4 linked regions of the Homo sapiens genome follow. The protein of the gene in region 3 interacts with the protein of the main gene of each other region in a biochemical or structural test. Each region holds a gene or a part of one and is shown on either strand. Other genes may lie near its edges. The genes, in order: PRPF40A, RAC1, FMNL1 and SRPK2.

Region 1 (3,568 bases), on a different chromosome or scaffold from region 3:
TTGGCTCACTGCAACCTCCGCCTCCTGGGTTCAAGCAATTCTCTTGCCTCAGCCTCCTGAGTGGCTGGGATTACAGGTGCCCGCCACCACTCCCTGATAATTTTTTTGTATTTTTAGTAGAGACAGGATTTCGCCATGTTGGCCAGGCTGGTTTCAAACTCCTGACCTCAGGTGATCAGCACACACCTTGGCCTCCCAAAGTGCTTGTTTTACAGGCGTGAGCCACCGTGCCCAGTGAACCTTACCTATTAAAGTGACCTGAGATGTTATTGTTTCATTGCTTATTTTAACAAAAACTTACCATTTATTCCATTACTTTCCAGAAACTTTCTTTTCTACACAGCTAATGTGGTATAATACCTCAAATGTGCCTAAAAGCTGTCTTCTATCTGCTTTACAAGAAAAATTTCAAGTTTTCTTTATTAGTCAATCAATCCATGTGGCTGCCAAACTGCTCAATTTCTAAAACTTTCTAAAAATACAAAACAGTCTTCACATACAAATCTTTATATTCCCATGGAAACTTAATAGTTTCTTTTACTTAAAAGCAGTTTTTATAGGAAAAAAACCATTCTCTAACCATCCAGGTAAGTACATTTGTATAAAAGCAGTGAATATTAAGCAACATACTTTCATCATTCTAAGTTCTTCAATTTGTTTATATTTTATATATTTTGTATATGAGAATTCTAAAATTACCTCAAGCACATGCATAAAATCTTTAAATATTCGTTTTCTTTCAGATTCTAGAGTTATGTCCTCAAATGCTGGCTCTTTTACAAATCTCTCACGGATCTGAAAAATTCAGATACAAAATAAATATATGAATACCAAGAAAAGTACAACGATACATCTAAAATAAATCATAACAGCAAGTGAAAACTGTGATGAATCAGTCCCCTTAAAGTCCATTATTTCCTCCCTTCAAAAGTCCAAACCATTCTTTACAAATATTCCTAAACAGAGTCAACAGCTGATTTAATGCTTTTATTATATTCTAAATATATTTAATATATTCTACAAATAAATTTAGCTTATTTTTGTGGCTATAAAATGAAAAATAAAAATATTTTAAATTTCTCAACTGTAAAGAAAAGAATTCCATTAGAAAAAAATAACAAGTATACATACATCTTCCCAGACAGCATCCAATTCTATCGGAGGAGCAGCTTGTTTTAACATACTCTTAAATGCAGATTCTTTTCGTTTCATCTTCCGAGCCTCTTCTTTTTCTCTTTCACGTTCACGGGCTTCTGCCTTTTCTAGTAACTATTAAGAAAATCATATTTAATCAGTTATAATAGTATCATAACTATTAGCTGAAATAATTTATTGTTAATTTAGGAATCACGCATTGTTTAAAACGAGCTTGTCCAACCTGTGGCCCAGGACCGCTTTGAATGTGGCCCAACACAAATTTGTAAACTTTCTTAAAACACTATAAGGATTTTTTGCAATTTTTTTTTTAAGCTCATCAGCTATCGTTAGTGTACTTTATGTGTGGCCCAAGGCCTGATTTATAATGGCCATTTTATGTATAATACCAGTTAATTTGAGCAAAGGAAGTTTAATATCAATCCATCATCTAAATAAAGTTTTTTGTTTTACCTTACCTGAAAGACTGGCTACCACTCTGTAAAATTCTATTCATATTCCCTTATTCCAACACTCTGCAACTTAGCTGCTTTTATCTGAATAAATTAAAAACTATACTACTAAACTAGTTACTTACAACAGAAAACATAACTTACACTATTGAAAGCCAATTTGATATTTCCAGCATCTAATGTAGTTGATCTTTTAGTTGAACTGATTATCGCCACAAAATCTTCAAAAGTAGTGTTTACTTCAACTACAAATCCTTTATCCTAAAAAAAAGAAATCTTAACATTAATAATGCATAAATCAAAGGAATACAGTACTAACTTTTAAGATATACTATTGGTTAAAAGGTAAGAATAAATATATTTACCTTTAGAATGTCTTTTATTATCTTCTTCTCGTCATGATAACGTGCTTTAAGATCCTCAACATAAAACTTGAAAAGATCAAGTGCAGTTGATCCTAATGAAAAAACTAAAGAAGTCAAAAGCTAGCTCTAACCAAAGAGCTGCAATTACTTTGTTGTTTAAAAAACAAAAATAAAGCACCCTTTCCCCCAACACAATCACCTTTGCATTTGGCCCATTTCAACTACTACCATAACGGTAAATTAGGAAAGAAAATAATCTTACCAGGCTGACCAAGCATATTAGTGAATCTAATATCAGAACTAATAGTTGGATACAATTCCATCCAAGATGACATAGAATGCAGTTGTCCATGTTCATGTAATTCATCTAAAAATATCTAGGGAGAAAAATTATATTTGGAAAGTCATCTCGAGTACATGAGAAATAAGCGTCTAACATGAAAACACACAAAAACTTTGACATAGTTAAAACTCTTCTACCAATGTTATCCCAAACCTGTTTGGGCACAAAGAATATTTGCTATTTGGGCAAAGTAACAACTGCCTCTAGGCAAAAAAATATTTTGTCCTTTAGAGAAAATAACTTTTGAAACTGCACATTATCTTCCTAAGGTTCTATTTCCTACCCTTTAAGATAGAACCTAATTTTTAGCTTTAAAAAAAAAAAGGTAAAAGTTAACTTAAATTACTGGATATCTACCTCAAATGATGAGGCTAAAGAATGTATATGCATGTTTCCTTAAATATATACTTTCTGTCTTTAAAAATAGTGCCTAATGTGTTCTAGGTATTTTTATTTACTTTTAAAAAACAAGGGGCCTTAAGAGGAGGATGTATAATTTTCCCAAAGTAGTTTGGAGACCTAGGATTCAAACCCATATCTAGTTTCAATTTCCACACTTCCTGCTTCCAACCCAATCCTCAGGGAGTTTAATCCTATACACCAGGGGATCCCAACCCCCAGCCACGGAACCGGAACCAAGCCACACAGCAAGAAGTGAGTGGTGGAACAAGCATTACCGCCCCAGCTCCACCTCCTGTCAGATCAGTGGCGGCATCAGATTCTCATAGGACTGCAAACCGTATTGTGAACTGAGCATGCCAGGAATCTAGGTTGTGTGGTCCTTATGAGAATCTAATGCCTGATGATACCAACTCCCCACCCCACCCCACCAAGAAAAACTGTCTTCCACTAAACCGGTCCCTGGTGCCAAAAAGGTTGGGGACCGCTGCTATACACAAATGTGCCTAAAAGAAACTGTAACCCTATATTCTGTTCCCACAATTCCTATACCTGCACTGTTCAATAAGGTAGCCACTGACCAAACGTAGCTTCTCGGTACATGAAATGTAGCTAGTCTGAGTTGTGATGTGCTGTTAAGTACAAAATACACAATGATCTTGAAGATTTAATACCACAAATATTAGCAATTTTTAAAAATATTGATGTGTTAAAATAATATCTGGTTATATTGGGTTAAATTACTAAAATAAATAGGAAATTAAAATCGCATTTGTGGCATTCACATTTTTATTGGATAGAGCTGTCCCAAAGTAACATCAGGCACTTACAACTGCACTCACTCCTCTTCAAAC
Region 2 (3,568 bases), on a different chromosome or scaffold from region 3:
TCTGATAAGTCATCAGTTGGTTACATGTCCGCATTGAGGTGTAGGGCTTTGGAATTGAAACTTGGGTGTGTGTGTTGAAGGGGGAATGGGAGGGTGGAATTGGCTATTGAATTGCTTACTCCCTATAGGCAGCAGAATTGGGTGGAGACAGGAAAGTGCTGCTCTGGTGATGGGTTACCCGGGAGCGCACGTAGCTGAGCCTCATAATGCACCATCCTGCAGCTGCTGTGAGTCCTCCCTGTGCAGGCTGGGGAGGTGTCGCCTCCTCCCCACCTGTGTTCACCTCCTCAGGCACAACACACACCCAGGTGCTCTCTGAAGTGTCGTACCCATGTTTTTGTTGTTGTTGTTGTTGTTTTCCTTTTTTTTTTTTTTTTTTGGAGTTAGTCTCTCTCTCTTGCCCAGGATGGAGTGCTGTGATGCGATCTCAGCTCACTGCAGCGTCTGCCTCCTGGGTTCAAGTGATTCTCTGCCTCAGCCTCCCAGGTAGCTGTGATTACAGGCATACACCACCACACCTGGCTAATTTTTGTTTCTTTAGTAGAGACGGGTTTCACCATGTTGGCCAGGTTGGTCTCAAACTCCTGACCTCAGGTGATCTGCCCACTTCAGCCTCCCAAAGTGCTGGGATTACAGGCGTGAGCCACGGCACCCATTTTTTACTGTAAGTGGAATCATGCTGTCCCTGTTGTCCTAAATTTATGGGGGAGATTTTCCTTATCTACATATGTAGATAAAGGTTTAATCATTAATGATTAATGATTTTGAAGTACTATAACTGATTTAACCCACTGGTCACTTGGACTCTTGGTGTTAACAAACATTGCTGGGTTCAGTGTTGTCCCTTATGTCTTTGTGTACACTTGATAGATTATTAGAAGCAAAATCGTGCCAAATCAAAAGACAATGGATGTTTTAAATTTTGGTAGATACAGCTGGGCGTGATTGCTCACGCCTGTAATCCCAGCACTTTGGGAGGCCAAGACGGAAGGATCACTTGAGGTCAGGAGTTCGAGACCAACCTGGCCAACATGTTAAAACCCCCACCTCTGCTAAAAATACAGTAGTTAGCCGGGTGTGGTGGTGCACTCCTGTAGTCCCAGCTACTCAGGAGGCTGAGGCATGAGAATTGCTTGAACCCGGGAAGCAGAGGTTGCAGTGAGCCAAGATTGTGCCACTGCACTTCAGCCTGGGTAACAGAGTGAGACTCTGTCTCCCAAAAAAAAAAAAAAATTAAAAAATTATTTTTTGGTAGATAACTACCAAATTGCTGTCTATAAAGCTGTCACTTTGCTGGCCTTGACTTAAGTGGCCTCTTAGTACACACTGCCATTAACGTGGGTTGAAGTTATCTAACCGTTTTCATTTCCAATCACAGATGTGGTTAAAATCTTTTGAATTTTTTTTTTTTTTAATTAAAAAAGTTTGCTCACGCCTGTAATCCCAGCACTTGGGGAGGCTGAGCTGGGCGGATCACTGAGGTAAGGAGTTTGAGACCAACTTGGCCAAGATGGTGAAACCCTGTCTCTACTAAAAATACAAAAATTAGCTGGGCATGGTGGCACATGACTATAATCCCAGCTATTCGGGAGGCTGAGGCAGGAGGATTGCTTGAACCTGGGAGGTGGAGGTTGCAGTGAGCCAAGATTGTGCCTCTGCACTCCAGCCTGGGCAACAGAACAAGACATTGTCTCCAAAAAAGAAAAAAAAAATATGTGTTTTTGTAGAGCTATGTTTTGCTATATTGCCCAGGCTGGTCTTGAAGACCTGGCCTCAGGTGATTCTCCACCTTGGTCTCCCGAAGTGTTGGGATTACAGGCGTGAGCCACCACACCTGGCTCTTTTGAATGTTTACTGTACATTTTTAGTCTCTTGTGAATTGTCTGTTTAAATCTTTTGTATTTTTCTACTGAAATTTTTTCTTACTGATGGAACATTTCCTTCCTTCCTTCCCTCCCTCCCTCTCTCCCTCCCTTCCTCCCTTCCTTTCTTCCCTCCCTCCTCCTCTCCCTCCCTCTCTCCCTCCTTCCCTCCTCTCCTACTCCTTCCCTCCTTCCCTCCTTCCTTCTCCTTTCTTTTCCCCTCCCTCCCTTGCTCCCTCCCTCCCTCCCTTTTTTTTTTTTTTTTTTTTTGAGATGGGGTCTTGCAGTATTGCCCAGGCCGGACTTGAAGTACTGGTCCTTCCACCTCAGCCTATTGAGTAGCATGCTCCACTGCACGTAGCCTGATGGAACGTTTTGTAAATAATCCTCAGTCTGTCATTTGTCTTTGTACTTCATTATGGTGTCTTCTGCCATATAGAAATTTAGCATTTAATGTAAATAATACCACCTTACCCGGGCACGGTGGCTCACACCTGTAATTCCAGCACTTTGGGAAGCTGAGGTGGGCGCATTATGAGGTCAGGAGATCAAGACCAGCCTGATCAACATGGTGAAACCCCATCTCTACTAAAAATACAAAAATTAACCGGGCATGGTGGCGTGCACCTGTAATCCCAGCTCCTCAGGAGGCTGAGGCAGGAGAATCACTTGAACCCAGGAGGTGGAGGTTGCAGTGAGCCGAGATCGCACCACTGCACTCCAGCCTGGGTGACAGTGAGATTCTGTCTCAAAAAAAAAATAATAATAATAATGATAATACCACCTCTCCCTCAGAATTGTATGTTGTACTTAGAAAGGCCTTTCCTACTTAAATAATGCAAAAGTATGCTCTAGTATTTTTTTCTAGGATTTTTGTGGCTAAAATTTTTATCTTTAATTCATTTAGGACTTATTTTTGGTATAGAATGAGGCAAGGACCTGATTCTTTTTCCCTTATGGGGAAAAAAAGTCACAATACTATTTATCCAATAATTTTTTTCTTATGGAAATATAATTAACATGTCCATCACCATCACACCTTTTCTTTCTTCTTCTTCTTTTTTCTTGAGACCGAGTTTCGCACTTGTTGCCCAGGCCGGAGTGCAGTGGCGCAACTTGGCCCACTGCAACCTCTGCTTCCCGGGTTCAAGCGATTCTCTTGCCTCAGCCTCCCAAGTAGCTGGGACTACAGGTGCCTGTCACCACGCCCTGGCTAATTTTTGCATTTTTAGTAGACACAAAGTTTCGTCATGTTGGCCAGGCTGGTCTCGAACTCTTGACCTCAGGTGATCCGCCCACCTCGGCCTCCCAAAGTGCTGGGATTACAGGCGTGAGCCACCGTGCCCAGCCTCTGCTTTTTATTATATTTTTCCTTTTTTTTTTTTTCTTTTTTGCCTTCCTGTGCAGAGGAAACACTATTTTCTTCTAAAGCTTGGTTTCTGCTGACCAGTAGCAATTTTTAACATCAGTCTGATTTCCCTCTGTCAGCCTATAGGCTTTGCTGGGTTATCTCTCCTGACTAATTTGTGTAGCAACTTCACATGAATTTAAACATTTGTATCATCAGTTAACACTCACTTTGAAAATGTTATTGGGAGGCTTGTTAAGTCAGGTGTATTTTGTGTGACTGCTCTACACTCAGGCCTTCTGGAAACCCTGCAGAGGGTAGCTCTAGTGGCCAGCTAGCTCTCTTGCTGAAAATGAGC
Region 3 (3,568 bases):
CCGTATGCCAGCTCTGGTCCAGGGAGGGCACCACCTGCTGGCTAGACTGAGTTCCTTCCCACCCCAGGGCGGGGCCTACGGCAGGACTGACCCCTGCATAGTCCACCCCAAAGCTGTGTCAGGGCTGTGGCCTGGGAGCCCATACAGGAAGGGCAGGCTAGGCCTAGGCCAGGGGTTTTTAAAGTGGCCCGATGCTAGCTGGGCGTGGTGGTGCACACCCGTAGTCCCAGCTACCTGGGAGGCTGAGGTAGGAGGATCGCTTGAGCCCGGGAGTAGGAGGCTCCAGTGAACTATGTTCGTGCCACAGCACTCCAGCCTGGGCCACAGGGCAAGAAAAGAGAAAGATAAAAGAAAAGAAAAAAAAAGAAAGTGGCTTGGTGGACTGTTTGGGTTTATACCTTTGGTATTTCAGAGGCGTCTTAAGAAAGCCTGGGACCTCAGATCGGAGCTGAGAATGGGACACTGGGACGAGAACTGGTCATTTGCCCTGGGGTAGCTCTGGCTGGTTTTCTGTACACCCCATTCCATCTCCCCAGGAGCGGTTTCAAGTCAAGAATCCCCCCGCAGCCTACATCCAGAAGCTGAAGAGCTATGTGGATACTGGTGGGGTCAGCCGAAAGGTAGCAGCTGATTGGATGTCCAACCTGGGGGTACATGTCTCCCCTCTTTACTCTGTCCCTTTCCCCCACATTTTCCAAGCTCTGGGCAGCTGGAGTAACTGTGTGTACAGACTTTTCTATGTGCGTGTGTGGGTGCATGTATGAGTGTGTGTGTGTGTTTGTGTGTCTGTGTATTTATAGGGGAATGAGAGTGCCCTGGGTGTGCACTTTAGATATTCCTCTGTACATCCTGTGTGTGCTTACATGGACACATTCTGTGTACTTATACTGTGTGTATACACATGTGCAGCCCATATGTCCATACATAGGTGTGTGTGTATACTATGTGTGTACTTTGTCCACTTATGGATGTGTGTGTGTACCATTGAGTCCATATCTAGGAGAGAGAGAGAATGTGTGTGTGTGTGTGTCCATGTATGGATGTGTGGATATTCTATGTCTGTATTTAGAGTGCAGGTATATGGATGTTCATGTGCTGTGTGTGTGTGTGCGCACACACACTCTGCCTCTTTGTGTGTGTGCATGTGTATACCTTGTGTGCCCATGTATCGGGGGTGTGTGTACCCTGCTTGTCTATGTATGGGGGAGCACATGTAGCCTGTGAGTTCTTATTCTGCTGGGCAGGTGTGTGGAGGTGGTGGGGGAGGCTGAGCATGAAAGGCCACTTGTGCCAGTTGGAGGAGGGTGGGCGCTGCTGCCTGCTGCCTCAGGACTTGGTGGGCCTGTGGGAGGCCGGGCTCCACCCACCAGCCTTCCCTGTTCTCGGTCCCCAGTTTAAGAGGCGAGTTCAGGAGTCCACGCAGGTGCTACGGGAGCTGGAGACCTCCCTGAGGACCAACCACATTGGGTGAGTGAGGGCTCAGATCTTCCTCTCTGGGCCTAGGAAGGCTCTGCTTCCAGGCAGCTCCTGGAGCTTCCCCTTCCTACTCCCCCTGCCCCCTGCACAAGGCTGTGCTTGTGGACCACCTCCTGGAGGTGTCCAGGACAGCTTCCCCTCCCCTTCCTGCCCATGCTCTGACTGGCACCTTGAGGCATGGCTGGGCTGTGGGACCCACCTGAGTCTCCCAGAATCCTTTGGTATCATTGGGTCTTTGGGGGTTGAAAGGGCACCCCAGGGGTCCTTGCTGTCCCTGTTCTGTGCCCATGTGGGGCAGGACCTCCTTTCTGGCTGGAGCTCAGGGAGCCCTGTGCCCACAGGTGGGTGCAGGAGTTCCTCAATGAAGAGAACCGTGGCCTGGATGTGCTGCTCGAGTACCTGGCCTTTGCCCAGTGCTCTGTCACGTAAGCCCCCTGCTCCCAGCCCTCATGCCGCTCCTCAGAGCTTTGATCCCCGTCTCCCTGCATCTCACCCACTCCCCTGGCCAGTTTCAAGCCAGGCAGCCCGAGCCTACCCTGGAACCCTCCACTTGGCCTTGAGCGATGCTCCTTCCAGAAGGCCTGCCCCCGACAGGGAGGGGTGGCCTCTCTTCCACCACTATGTTCAGCACAGTGCCAAGAACACAGCCTCCTCCTCCTGCTCCTTAGTCTCACCTGCAGGTCTGTCTCTCCTTGCGTTTCCTCTGCCCCCTCTTAAGTGGCCCCTGCAGTGTTGGCCTCCAGCCCCATTGCATCCTGTCCCCAGGTATGACATGGAGAGCACAGACAACGGGGCTTCCAACTCAGAGAAAAACAAGCCCCTGGAGCAGTCTGTGGAAGACCTCAGCAAGGGTCCACCCTCCTCCGTGCCCAAAAGCCGCCACCTGACCATCAAGTATGTGGGCCACAAAGTGGGGTGGTGGGAGAACAGAGAATTCAGCCCCCACACTGCTGCATCTAGCCAGCCCACCCCGGGCCCTTGGGGTTGGCGAGAGGGGTAGCCATGCATTAGGGGTCCGAGTAAGGGACTCATACAGAGTTTGGGACACCAGTATGTTAAGAAGCCATCAGGGGTGGGGCTGGGTGCTGTGGCTCATGCCTGTAATCCCAGCACTTTGGGAGACTGAGGTGGGCAGATCATTTGAGGACATGAGTTTGAGACCAGCCTGGCTAACATGGTGAAACCCCATCTCTACTAAAATACAAAAATTAGCCGGGTGTGGTGGTGCACGCCTGTAATCCTAGCTACTCAGGAAGCTGAGGTGGGAGAATCGCTGGAGCCCAGGGGATGGAGGTTGCAGTGAGCTGAGATCGCACCACTGCACTGCAGCCTGGGTGACAGAGTGAGACCCTGTCTCAAAAAAAAAAAAAAAAAAAAAAAAGAAAAGAAAAGAAAAAAGAAGCCATCGGGGTGGGCACCTAGAAGTTGGAGTCTGGATGGGTCTGGGATAAGAAGGGAGTTTCTGGGTTGGTGGGACCCCTCTTGTATGCATCTAATCCCCTGTTTTCTCCCATGCGGCCTCCAGGTGTCCCCCTTCTCCCCGGTACGTAGCCATCTAGGGGCAGGTGCATGCCTGGCTGACTCCCTCCCAGGGTGGTGGTGGGTTAGGATGAGGTATTCAACTGATGTCCCTGGGTTCAGTGCTGTGGCTGGGTTCCTCCATCCTAACACGGGCATCTTGCTGGGAGGCAGGAAGCAGGCAGTAGATGGACCCTAGAGCATCTTGTGAATCCCTAGCTTCCTGCTTTGGGTCTAGAGGATTGATTGCATATTAAGCCTCAAACTTTCACAATATGTTATTTGTCCATTCATGCAATTATGCATTCAGCAAACATTTTTTTAACACTTAGTATGTATTAGGTATATGGCAGGTGCCCAGGAGACAGGTCACCCTGCCCTCAGGGGCCCACAGTCTAAGTGGGGGACAATTTAGTGTGACAGGCTGTCATGGAAGTGTGCCTGGGAGCTCTGAGAAGGGAGGTGGCCACCACTTGGGACATCAGGAAGGCTTCCCAGAAAAGGTGACGCTGGAACTGTGTCTTACAGACAGATACAGGCTTTACAGGCAGCCATGGGAACAGGGAAGAGCATT
Region 4 (3,568 bases), on a different chromosome or scaffold from region 3:
CTTAGCCTCCTGAGTAGCCGGGATTACAGACGTCCACCAGCACACTCAGCTAGTTTTTGCATTTTTGGTAGAGACAGGATTTCACCATGTTGGCCAGGCTGGTCTTGAATTCCTGACTTCAAGTGATCTAGTGGCCTCAGCCTCCCAAAGTGCAGGGATTACAGGCGTGAGTCACCACACCCAGTATCTAATAAGGACATAGTGTTTTGACAGGACCACAAAATAGATCAGTCTCTTTCTTATTTAACATCCGCATGGAAAAAATTAGAACAACAGCTTCAGAAAAACAGGTAACTTAGCAGCCAATCAGAAATAATGTAAAGTGGTTTTGAAATAAAAATACTTCAACTCCATCACCTCACATTTCACTAAACTTGGCCACCATAGTCCAGAAAATGCATAAAGAAGACAATTTTTGAAAGGCTCTAACTATCCCAACTCTGCACAGATCATTAAAACTTAACAAGACAGGCTGGGCGTGGTGGTTCAAACCTGTAATCCCAGAAATTTGGGAGGCCGAGGCAGGCAGATAACTTGAGGTTAAGAGTTCGAGACCAGTCTGGCCAACATGGTGAAACCCCTCTCTACTAAAAATACAAAAATTAGTTGGGTGCGGTGGCAGGTGCCTGTAATCCCAGCTACTCGGGAGGCTGAGGCACAAGAATCGTTTGAACCAGGGAGGGGGAGGTTGCAGTGAGCCGAGATCGCACCACTTGCACTCCAGCCTGAGCAACAGAGTGAAACTCAGTTTTCAAAAAAAAAAAAAAAAAAAATTAACAAGACATTAAGTCTTACCTATTTGAGGATACACAGCTTTTATAAATGTGTCTACCCTTTAAATACACAACTTTTTTATAATTTGAACAACTCAATAATAAACGGTCTCTTTTAACATGGTGCATATAAAGTAATATGCGTAAGTACTTACAGGTTTCTGCTGTGGAGCCGTACTCACTAAAATAAAATCAAACAAAATCTGTATTTAGCAGAAAACAGACACATGCCTTCATGTAGGTCATTCGAATTGCAAAGTGAAATAATTATTGTCTTTTAATGGCTATCCAACTTCAAAAACTATTAATCAGAGCTTCTTAATCACAAGGATCTAGAGTAAGTTTATGCCACTGAAACAAATGAGTGACTCCTGAAGTCACAGCAGAAGTTACTCATACTGAGCCATTTCTCTTATTTATCTAAAATGAAATACTAATACATCTCAAACACAGTCAAGCTCAAGCACCAACAGATCACTTAAGAAAATGGAAAAGAATACATATCACAGTCATTAAACCAAATTTGTTTAAAATATAATGAAATGAACAATGTAGATGTACATCGATATTTGGAATCTATTTTGCAAGCTTTCTATAATTTAAATCAAATACTGCAGTTGGTATGCAGCAAATAGTCTAGGAATCACATGATTAAACCCCTACACCAGGGTCAAAAGCTTAACAGGCTGGGTCCATGATCTAAACAACACCCTGATGGCAGTAAAGGAGATGTGAAGAGAGCCCCAGGCAGTCCCAGGAGCCTCAGCCCTTTAGTATCCATGCTTGCCTGACAACACACAAAGGCACAGATCATGGTGTCGAAGAGTGAGAAGCACAGTCCACACTTCACTGCACCACCTCCCCGACCCCGCCCCAGAAATAAAGATATCCCAATACTCAGGTCACTTGATCTTCTTCCCCCACCATCAGGCCTTTTCTAACTAACTCCAAATCTGTTGATACAACTCAGGTTGACATAGCTATGCTAAATGGACAACAAGAATTTATGTACACAAAATTGAAGCCAGAAAAATATTCTGATGACTAAAGGTCAGCTACAGGAAAGCTGTTACTATGTTCTCCTCTGCAGAGAAGCTGGCAACAGAAAAAACTGTTCAAATATAGATGAAGCAGCAACTACAAATTTAAATGGCCTTTTAAAGGGGGACAAAAGTAAATACTTCCAATATTAAAATATAATGTAGCTGGGGCATTTTCCATTTCAAGGGTGCAGTTATTTCCAGCAATTAAACTTTTCCAAAATCTTCCTTATGTGTAACGTTTGATTCAGATACCTTCAACAACTGCAACTTTGCAAGCTCCCAATGCCCCCACACTGAAATGAAGCTGGCTCAGCTCCCTCACCTGCAGACCCTGAAGGAGGAGGAGCACCTGCTTTCTGCCACTCAGTGGCCTCAGCTGCCATTCTTCTCACATATGCATCATCCACACACATCAAGATATTTTCCGGCTTTATGTCAGTATGAATGATCTTGCACTTACTGTGTAAGTAATCTAACCCTTGAAGGACCTGGATATAGTAAAATCAAGAGAGAAGATAAGCTATTAATATCTCATTATATAACTTTTATTTATTTGAAAAACATGTAATACAATGCCAGGGTACAAAGTTTGATAAACACAAAAGGATATTTAGTAAAAATCTCCCTCCCATGCCTACCCACATTGGAATCCAGCTCTCCTTTCCATAAGCAACCAGTGTGTATAATTTCAGAGATTATTTATGCTCGTGGAAGCAAATGCATCTACATACAGTTGAACCTTGAACAACACAGGTTTGAACTGCATGGGTTCCCTTATACACAGATTGTCTTCCACCTCTGCCACTCCTGAGACAGCAAGACCAACCCCTCAGCCTACTCAACGCGAAGATAATGAGGATGAAGACCTTTATGATCATCTACTTCATATGATCTATCCACTTAATGAATAGTAAGTATATTTTCTCTTCTTTATGATTGTCTTAACATTCTTTTCTCTAGCTTACTTTGTTGTAAAAATATGCTATATAACACACATACAAAATACATGTTAATTGGTCATGTGATCATTAAGGATTCTGATCAACAGTAGGCTAGTAATTCATGTATCATACAATTGACCCCTTTAGGTATACAATTCAATGGATTTTAGATGTGCGACTATCATTACTATTTATTTTTTAAATTTTTTATGTATTTATTTTTTGAGACAGAGTCTCGCTCTGTCACCCAGGCTGGAGTGCAGTGGCACAATCTTGGCTCACTGCAACCTCCGCCTCCCAGGTTCAAGCAATTCTCCTGCCTCAGCCTCCCAAGCAGCTGGGATTACAGGCGTATGCCACCACGCCTGGCTAATTTTTTTTGTATTTTTAGTAGAGACGGGGTTTTACCATATTGGCCAGTGGTCTCGAACTCCTGACCTTGTGATCCACCTGTCTCGACCTCCCAAAGTACTGGGATTACAGGCGTGAGCCACCACACACGGCAACTACCACCACTATTTAAATGACAACATTTTCATTGCTCCAAAAAGAAACAACATATTCATCAGCATTCACTTCCCATCTCTCTCCTACCCCTTCTAACCCTTAGCAACCACTAATCTACTTGCTGATTCTGGACATTTCCTATAAATGGAATCATATAAAGTATTTTTTTGTAACTGGCATAATGTTTTCAAGTTTGACTCTTGTGCAGCATGTATTAGTACTTCGCTTATTCTTATTGGCAAACAGTATTCCACTGTATGGAGATACAACATTGTGTTTATCCCTTCACCTCATGAACATTTGG

The links.
Region 1: the proteins of FMNL1 (region 3) and PRPF40A form a complex in vitro, tested with the Homo sapiens proteins (one study listed by BioGRID).
Region 2: the proteins of FMNL1 (region 3) and RAC1 form a complex in vitro, tested with the Homo sapiens proteins (one study listed by BioGRID).
Region 4: of the proteins of FMNL1 (region 3) and SRPK2, one has a biochemical effect on the other in vitro, tested with the Homo sapiens proteins (one large-scale study listed by BioGRID).

What each region holds. Positions count from the first base shown.
Region 1 is NC_000002.12:152,661,904-152,665,471, forward strand, and holds part of PRPF40A (pre-mRNA-processing factor 40 homolog A), read right to left. Parts: intron 2,350-3,568; coding exon 2,235-2,349; intron 2,077-2,234; coding exon of another isoform or gene 2,065-2,076; coding exon 1,973-2,064; intron 1,869-1,972; coding exon 1,752-1,868; intron 1,270-1,751; coding exon 1,132-1,269; intron 796-1,131; coding exon 700-795; intron 1-699.
Region 2 is NC_000007.14:6,387,986-6,391,553, forward strand, and holds part of RAC1 (ras-related C3 botulinum toxin substrate 1), read left to right. Parts: intron 1-3,568. UniProt on the Homo sapiens protein: Plasma membrane-associated small GTPase which cycles between active GTP-bound and inactive GDP-bound states.
Region 3 is NC_000017.11:45,231,831-45,235,398, forward strand, and holds part of FMNL1 (formin-like protein 1), read left to right. Parts: intron 1-536; coding exon 537-650; intron 651-1,393; coding exon 1,394-1,467; intron 1,468-1,817; coding exon 1,818-1,901; intron 1,902-2,241; coding exon 2,242-2,370; intron 2,371-3,568. UniProt on the Homo sapiens protein: May play a role in the control of cell motility and survival of macrophages. Plays a role in the regulation of cell morphology and cytoskeletal organization. Required in the cortical actin filament dynamics and cell shape.
Region 4 is NC_000007.14:105,144,355-105,147,922, forward strand, and holds part of SRPK2 (SRSF protein kinase 2), read right to left. Parts: intron 2,305-3,568; coding exon 2,139-2,304; intron 955-2,138; coding exon 929-954; intron 1-928. UniProt on the Homo sapiens protein: Serine/arginine-rich protein-specific kinase which specifically phosphorylates its substrates at serine residues located in regions rich in arginine/serine dipeptides, known as RS domains and is involved in the phosphorylation of SR splicing factors and the regulation of splicing.